Homo sapiens: one gene and its partner. The protein of the gene in region 2 purifies or fractionates together with the protein of the main gene of each other region. This does not show direct contact. Each region holds a gene or a part of one and is shown on either strand. Other genes may lie near its edges. The genes, in order: KSR2 and UTS2.

The links.
Region 1: the proteins of UTS2 (region 2) and KSR2 purify together in Homo sapiens (co-immunoprecipitation; one large-scale study listed by IntAct). This does not show direct contact.

The regions. Positions count from the first base shown.
Region 1 is NC_000012.12:117,962,229-117,966,044, reverse strand, and holds part of KSR2 (kinase suppressor of Ras 2), read left to right. Parts: intron 1-3,816. UniProt on the Homo sapiens protein: Location-regulated scaffold connecting MEK to RAF. Has very low protein kinase activity and can phosphorylate MAP2K1 at several Ser and Thr residues with very low efficiency (in vitro).
Region 2 is NC_000001.11:7,850,264-7,854,837, forward strand, and holds the start of UTS2 (urotensin-2 isoform b preproprotein), read right to left. Parts: upstream 2,803-4,574; 5' UTR 2,741-2,802; coding exon 2,638-2,740; intron 660-2,637; coding exon 549-659; intron 1-548. UniProt on the Homo sapiens protein: Highly potent vasoconstrictor.

The DNA of each region.
Region 1 (3,816 bases), on a different chromosome or scaffold from region 2:
TCCCTTGTCCCAGTATGCTACAGAGCATGCAACCACTTTCATCCATCTTGCCCAGGGAATGCTCTTGAGCAATTATTCCAATTTGTATTTCCCAGATTTGCAGGGTTAGGGAGGGCCCCTGCAGAGGGGCTGGTAACTTAGGGTCCAGCCAAGTCCAGCCAACGCTAACATTTGGGTCCACGGAATTTTCTAATTTTGTATATCAAAACCATATGAGGGTGCTTGTTAAAATGCAGATTCTTAGCCTCTAACCCTAGAGATTCTAGTTTAGCTGGGATTAGCAAGAGGGTCAAGGAATCTGCGTTTAATAAACAGTCCAGGTATTTCTGATACATGTTTTCAAATGGACACTTTGAGATGCTAAACCATTAGGAGAAAGATGTGATATTTCAGCTCTTTAATGGTGAAAACTCACTGCTTGCTAACACTAATGCAAGTAATAAATTGAATAGATGATCCCTGAACAGTGCTGTGATAATGAACAGCACTTAATAGCATGTATACACTTCTGTAGAAACAAAAATATGCAAGGTGGACTTGGCCTTCAGGAAGCATACTTCATGATATAATAATGTGTATGTGAAATAATGATAAAGTCTAAGTGGTAAATAATATGGGGGACAATGTGTGAGCCCATTAGGCATGTGTTCAGCTGCATGAAATGGAAAACCCAATCCTAGCAGTAAGGCAAATAATGGTTTCTCTTCATGTAACAAGAATTCTGGAGACATATAGCTGCTTCAGTTGGCTCAGTAGGTTAGTAATACCAGGGCTGATGTCTTTGGGAATTCTCATGGCTTTTCTCTTATGGTTGCAAGATGGTTCCTGCAGCTTCAGCGATTACATCTGAGTTCAAGGTAGGAAAGAGGAGGACCTGGTGAGTGTGAAGGAATAAAGGGTTCCCCAGGACATCTCTTCCTCCTCACCTTGCAGATGATTTGATTATATCTTCTTGGCCAGAACTGAGTCCTAGCTGCAAGGGAGCCCGGGAAGTGGGGAAGTGGGACCACCACCAGGATCGGCTTAGATGGATCATGATCCATTGCCTGAAATGACATGTTGCCACTCCATGCAAAATCAGGGCTCTGCTAGTGTGGAAGGAGGCATAGGTAGATATTAAGTAAGTGGACAGCCAGCGATGGCAGCCATGGCACATAGTCAGAAGATATTTTGGTGGAAAAGAAAGTTCATGAACGTTGAGTCAGACTGATATAGTTGTAAATTCTAGCTTGTCTTTTTACTTTATCTTGGGCTAGTGATTTAAGTTTTCTGATTTATAGTTTTAAGTTTTTGGCAAAACAGCAATAATTAAATAATATTCCCTACTTCAGAGGATGGTTATAAGGATTGAAAGAGATAACGTTTTCAAGGGTCTAGCACTATCTGGAACAGAGTGGCTGCAGGTGCTAAATGAATGACAGCTGTGATGATGATAATGATTGGCATTACATGGTGTTGACTAGATGGCATGGAAGGGAGCAGTTCAGATTGGACAGAGAGAAGGAGGAGCTTGAGTAGCATTTCCAAAGTATGTTCTGTAGAACCCTAAATCTGTGGGATGTTAGCGTTTTTAATTCTTTCAACAAATGCTGACATCCAGGCACTGTACTTAATGCTGGTAGTCAATAAGTGTTCTGTGGACAAAACAAATTCTGTGGTTAATAAGTTTGGGAAGGGTTGAGTTAAGCAAAGGGAAACAGGCATCTTTACTGCAGGACTTTTCTCAGAGCCTTTAATATGCTACCTATGTGTATTAGGCCTCCAAGAGAGGATAGAACGGAGTCTCGCTCTTGTCACCCAGGCTGGAGTGCAGTGGCGCAATCTCAGCTCACTCTGCCTCCTGGGTTCCAGTGATTCTCTTGCCTCAGCCTCCCAAATAGCTGGGATTACAGATGCCCGCCACCATGCCCTGGTAATTTTTGTGTTTTTAGTAGAGACGAGCTTTTGCCATGATGGCCAGTCTGGTCTTGAACTCCTGACCTCAGATGATCTGCCCGCCTCGGCCTCCCAAAGTGCAGGCGTGAGCCACTGCACCCGGCCCAAGGATTTCTCCTGGGATTTTTGTTCCATAGGATACACCTGGGAAAACATTTGGCAAAGCAGGGAAACCTTCTTGGTTGGGGAGATGGGGATTTGGAGTGAAGGATGAGGAGGGTTTAGATTGCAGCAAAAGGGGAGAGCATGCTGGACAAGAACAACAAACCAGATGAAGGTATTTGAATGCCTTCATGGGGCAGCCTAGAGACCATTTTGCCCAGAATGGAGGGTACCTGGTAGCCTGTCATAGGAAATGAATTTAGGCCACTAACTTCTGGGATCCAACTAAAGATTAGAGAGTCAGACCAACAACGTTTCATCCCTTTGTGGAAGGAGATAGAAGTCTTCAAAGGTTTTGGAATGCATACAATAGAAAAGTATAAGCTTTTTTGTTTTGTTTTTTTTGAGGCAGGGTCTCACTCTGTAACTCAGGCTGGAGTGCAGTGGCACGATCATGGCTTACTGCAGCCTTGACCTCCAGGGCTCAAGAGATCCTCCTGCCTCAGCCTCTTGAGTAGCTGGGACTACAGGTATGCACCACCACGCTTGGCTAATTTTTTGTATTTTTTAAATAGAGACAAGGTATTGCTATGTTGCTCCAGCTGATCTTGAACTCCTGGGCTCAAGTGATTCGCCTGCCTTGGATGGCAGCCTACGGCAGGGGCTGGCAAACTTTTTCTGGAAAGGGACAGATAGTAAAGAGTTTAGGCTTTGTGGACCCTGCAATTTTTATCAAAGCTACTCGACTCTGTGCTGTAGCATGTAGCAGCCATGGGCAGTACATACATGAATGGGTGGGGCAGTTTTCTTTTTATTTTGAGACAGGGTCTCGCTCCGTTGCTCAGGCTGGAGTGCAGTGGCGTGATCTCGGCTCATTGCAACCTCCGCTTCCCAGTTTCAAGTGATTCTCCTGTCTCGGCCTCCTGAGTAGCTGGGATTACAAGCCTGCACCATCACGCCTGGCTAATTTTTGTATTTTTAGTAGAGACAGGGTTTCAGACCAGCCTATTGGCCAGGCTGGTCTCAAACTCCCGACCTCCAGTGATCCGCCCACCTCAGCCTCCCAAAGTGCTGGGATTATAGGCGTGAGCCATCAAGCCGGGCCTGGTGGGGCAGTTTTCTAATAAAACTTTATTTGTGGACCCTGAAACTTGAAATTGATATACTTTTTGCATGTCATGAATATTTTTCTTTTGATTTTTTTTTTGATGTTTATAGTTGTACAAACTGTAGTTTCTGGGCCTTACAAAAACAGGTGATGGTGGCCAGGCACAGTGGCTCACGCCTGTAATCCCAGCACTTTGGGAGGCTGAGGTGAGTGGATCACTTGAGGTCAGGAGTTTGAGACCAGCCTGGCCAACATGGCGAAACCCCGTCTCTACTAAAAATACAAAAATTAGTGGGGCATGGCAGCGGGTACCTGTAATCCCAACTACTCGGGAGGCTAAGGCAGGAGAATCACTTGAACCTGGGAGGTGGAGGTTGCAGTGAACCAAGATGGCACCATTGCACTCCAGCCTGGGTGACAGAGGGAGACTACATCTCAAAAAAAAAAAAACCCAAAAAACAAAACAAAACAAAACCCAGGCGATGGGTCATATTGGGCCCATGGGCTGTAGCTTGCTAATCCCTAGGCTGTAGGATAGATGAGAGGGGAAAAACTCTGAAAGACAGAGACCATCCTAAGGTGAGCAAGTGACACTAGAATGGGAGAGTACTAGCCAAGTAGAGGTAGTTTTGAGCTGGATTCTGTTTTAGTTAAATTGCAAGGGGAAAAAA
Region 2 (4,574 bases):
CCAGCAAAAGGCTCAATTTTGTTTCCAGAACTTCCTGAGCATATGTGTCAATGCTTGGGGGAATGTGGCCACGGGGGAATAAGCTGACATTTTATTAATGACTTTCTGTGTGACTCGAGCATTTTACTTGCCTTGACTCATTGACTCTTCACAAGTTACCTTCTGAGGTGGAAACTTAATCATTCCTGATTACAGATTAAGAAACTGGAGTACAGAAAGATTACTTTAAGTTTTCAGTAAACGGGAAACTAGGATTTTAAATTGCACTCACTGGAAACTGGAATAATTACCACCAAGCTCTACCCCGCAAAAATAAAAGTCCACACAGAAAGACAAAATGCTGAGGTACCAAAGAGCACAGTGCGAGCAAGGAGCTGCTGGGGAAAAGAAGGTTGCACAGGCCGGGAGGGGAGAGTGTTGGTAATTACTTATTTTATATAGCTCATCTTTATATTCCAAAATAGAGCTTTACCTCTTCTAGATGAGGACAGACGGTAAGTTCAGTAGCAATTAAATCAGACACGCTATAAACATGAGAAGCATTTTACCTGCTTTCCTGAGAATATCCCCTCTTTCTGCACCCAGCATCTCTGGCAGTATCTGTAGAAGGGAAGCTCTTTCTAGCTCCTCCGGAGTTAAGCGCGCGTCTTCATGAGGTGCTACAGAGTAAAAACAGATACTTAGAATTGGGTTCATCCTTCAGTTAGTTATTTCTGTTCCTTGTGTCTTTGGCGAGCACCAGAGATAGGGAGATGAACACTAGAAAAACTTCCAACGCTGAGTTCATGACGTGTCATCAGTGGTATTCTAGAAGAGGTGGAAATGCTACCAGCCCGTGTGCCAGCCAGCAGAATGGGAAGCCGGGAGACGTGGATCTGACACCCGCGTGATGAGCCAAGCCCCTCGGCTGCCTCGAACAAGAGCTGAGGGATAAGCCACAGCCTTTCTCAAAACCATTTTGGTTCAAAAAGTCTGACTCTCCCTCATTTCTGCTTATCTACTGCTGCCTACTGCCTTTTTGCTTTTAGATATTTGGGTGGTGACATTGGAGAGGAAAAAGAAAGATCGTTTACAATCTTCCTATAAAGCCAGTAGGATGGTATCACCTCTTCTTTTACTGAACTTCAAGATTTCAATACAATTATTATACTTAGAATTGGCTTCAAAATCATCTGTAAGGAACTTGATTGTGGCATTTCCTATGTGAAATGTGGTCGACCAGATGGCATATAGAATGCATGGTAAGTGCGCTTAAGGTGTGTGGAAAGGGCACACCGGAGTGTGAGGCGTGGTAAGTGCAGACCTGCTGCTGTGTTGCGATTCGAGGCTGTGGGAGTCAGGGTGGGAGGCCATGTGTGGGACCAGCGTGCCACAGGCTTACAAATAGCTGCAACCTTGATTGGAGGACAGTGAGCAGATCATCATAAAGGCATCAGAGCACATTCACAGCACTTCTAAAGACTGTTAATGAAAATCTATAAAATTTCATCATCTGTAAATGCTGATAGGAAAGCACATTTCTGGAGAAATAAATGAGAACAAATTCTGCGATAAGCTGCCACTTGTTTCGAATTTGTGTGAGATGCTACACTCATTTCATCTATGTTTCTTAAATTACTTGTAAAATTTTTTAAGATGACAGTAGTAGCTGAGTATTTTCACTTATTTCATCTTGAGATGTGTGCTGTTTCTTTGTAAATAGCAGAGATTCAGTAAAGTTAATGCCAGTGTTTAACTATTAGTAGGACAGCCAATGATCATCTCGGTGACTCGGGAAGTTGGTTGGCAGTGCCTGATGACAGTGCTTGACGATCATCAGAAAGCTGCTTGGGATGAACTTTTAGAGACGAGAAACTATAAAATCCTTGGCTTAAAAGAGGGTTTGTTTGTTTTTTTTCTTTATTTAAAAAAAGCCTATTTAAAAAGTACTCAAGATTAAAGATAAGATTAAATCTAGTTAAGTTTTTGATGGAACCTAATCCCCAAGCATTAGCTTTCTCATTTCTCTAACTAAATGGAAAGATAATGGCAAAATGAGAAACTACTTGACTGATGTGTATTTCTTTAACTCAACTTAGACTTAAACTGAATTAACATAAATCAAAAGGAAACGATCAATATACTTGGAAGTCTATGAACTCCCTAGTTCCCTAGTTTGTCATTTACTAAAAAATTTTTAGTAAACATTTTTGTTTCGTAGAACACATATCAGATGATTTTTTTAAACAAAAGGTGAAACAAATAAATCCATTAATAATCTATAATTAGAACAACCAGTGCTACATTCAACCAGTTCATTTAAAGTAAAAACTAAAAGTAATGATGTTTTAAATTTCATGCAATTTTTAAAATTGGAAAAATGTATATATTACCCAAAACAAGAGTACAGAGGTAACATGAAACAAGCAATTATCCTCTTCTCCTTTTACATTGTAGAGACAGAAAAAAAACTGTATCCATTACTACATCTAAAATGTGCAGTAAGGATCCTTTAATATTCTTTTCAAAGCTGGGACTATTGAGAGAACAAGACTCCAGACTCCTTCGAGCAGGAATCCCATTCTTATCTCTAACATTGAATTTAAGACTAGTAAAGGCTCTTTCAAGACTAACATAAGGGGAAAAAAAAAATCTTACCTGAGAGTTGAAAGGATATTTCCCTGGAGTCAAGGAGAGGAAGAGATAAGAGAGGATTTAAGAATCCTATGAAAAGCAAACAGCAGGAGGCCAGCTTATACATGATCGCCACAAGATAGACGGCTTCCTTCTTGGCTTCTGTTGTAGAGAACTTTCAACTGTCTCCTCATTCTGCCTGCTCACTGATTATATATATCATCCTATGACCTGACATCATCCTCTCCAAAAAAAAAAAAAAAATGAATTTATTGGCTATGGAGGCTAAAAGGCAATCACTTTGCATTGATGTAATTTTTCAAGGTAACAAGTCATAGACAATAAATTAACTGTCTTGTTGCCTAGTGTACAAAGTAGGTATTATATAAAGAACAGTGAGTTTATAAATCTGGCAAAAGAGGCAACTTACAGCAATAAATCATGAATTAAAGGAAGGCTTGGATATGAGTTGAAGTGGCCAAAGCAAAGAGACGTGGATTTATGAGTCCGAGCAGAAGTGACGCAGAGCATAAGATGAAATACGTTGGTTTCCATTTTTTAATCTTTCATGAGTGAGTAGATGAGTTGCCATGCTGTGTTTAGGGCTGCCATCCCTGAAGAATGACAATCTGTGGATTAAAACGTAAAACCAGCTATTTCCTTTAAAACAGTGAAAAGTTAAAATACATAGCAAACATTGCTCCAGGCTCAAGACAATTCTGTACATACACGTGGCCTCATGTGAAGCCGCAAGCACTTCAATCTTCAGAGAAAGGAAATAACTTCATAAAGTTGATTATTATTCAGCAAGGAGGGAGGAAGGACTTAACACCAGAAAACTCGCTGATAAACATTTCCAGAATGTGGCCTCTACTCCCAACTGTACTCTGCCCAAGCTGGTCCAAGCCCGGATGGGTGGAAAGGTCCCCGACAGGCGTCCTGAAGTCTGCCTTCGGGCCTGCCACAGGCTCAGCACAGCAGAGTGATGCCAGAAGCATCTGCATAAGTCAGATCATGGTAGTTCTTTGCTCAAAACTTTCTGTGGACCTAAACACAAAAGTTACAAAGATAGGCCAGGCACGGTGGCTCATGCCTGTAATTTCAGCACTTTGAGAGGCCGAGGCAGGAGGATCACTTGAGTTTAGGATTTCAAGACCAGCCTGGGCAACATAGAGAAACACTGTCTCGGCCGGGTGCAGTGGCTCACGCCTGTAATCCCAGCACTTTGGGAGGCTGAGGCGGATGGATCACGAGGTCAGGAGTTTGAGACCAGCCTGACCAACATGGTGAAACCCCGTCTCTACTAAAAATACAAAAATTAGCCAGGCATGGTGGCACGTGCCTGTAATCCCAGCTACTCAGGAGGCTGAGGCAGGAGAATTGCTTGAATCCAGGAGGCGGAGGGTGCAGTGAGCCAAGATTGCGCCACAGCAGTCCAGCCTGGGTGACAGAGCGAGACTCTGTCTAAAAAAAAAAAAAAAGAGAAGGAGAAACACTGTCTCTACCAAAAATACAACAATTAACCAGGTGTGGTGGTGCATGCCTGTATCACTTGAGCCTGGGAAGTTGAGGCTGCAGTGAGCCAAGATCGTCCCACTGCACTCCAGCCTGGGTGACAGAGCGAGACCATGTCTCAAAAAAAAAAAAAAAAAGAAGAAAGAAAAGTGGTTACAACGTAATGATAGAACTACTAGGGGAAAAAACATGAACACCTTCACAACCTCAGGTTAGGCAAATATTTCTTAGACAAGACACAAATCACACAGGAAAAAAATTGAGACAGGAGGAATAAGTTCAAGAGATCTATGTACCTCAGGGTGACTCTGATTAATAACAATGTATAGTTGAAGATTTCTAAAAATCGATTTTGTGTTCTCATCACAAAAAAATGCTAAAAACGTGAAGTAATACACATGCGAATTAGCTTGATTCAGCCATTCCACAATGTATGCATATATCAA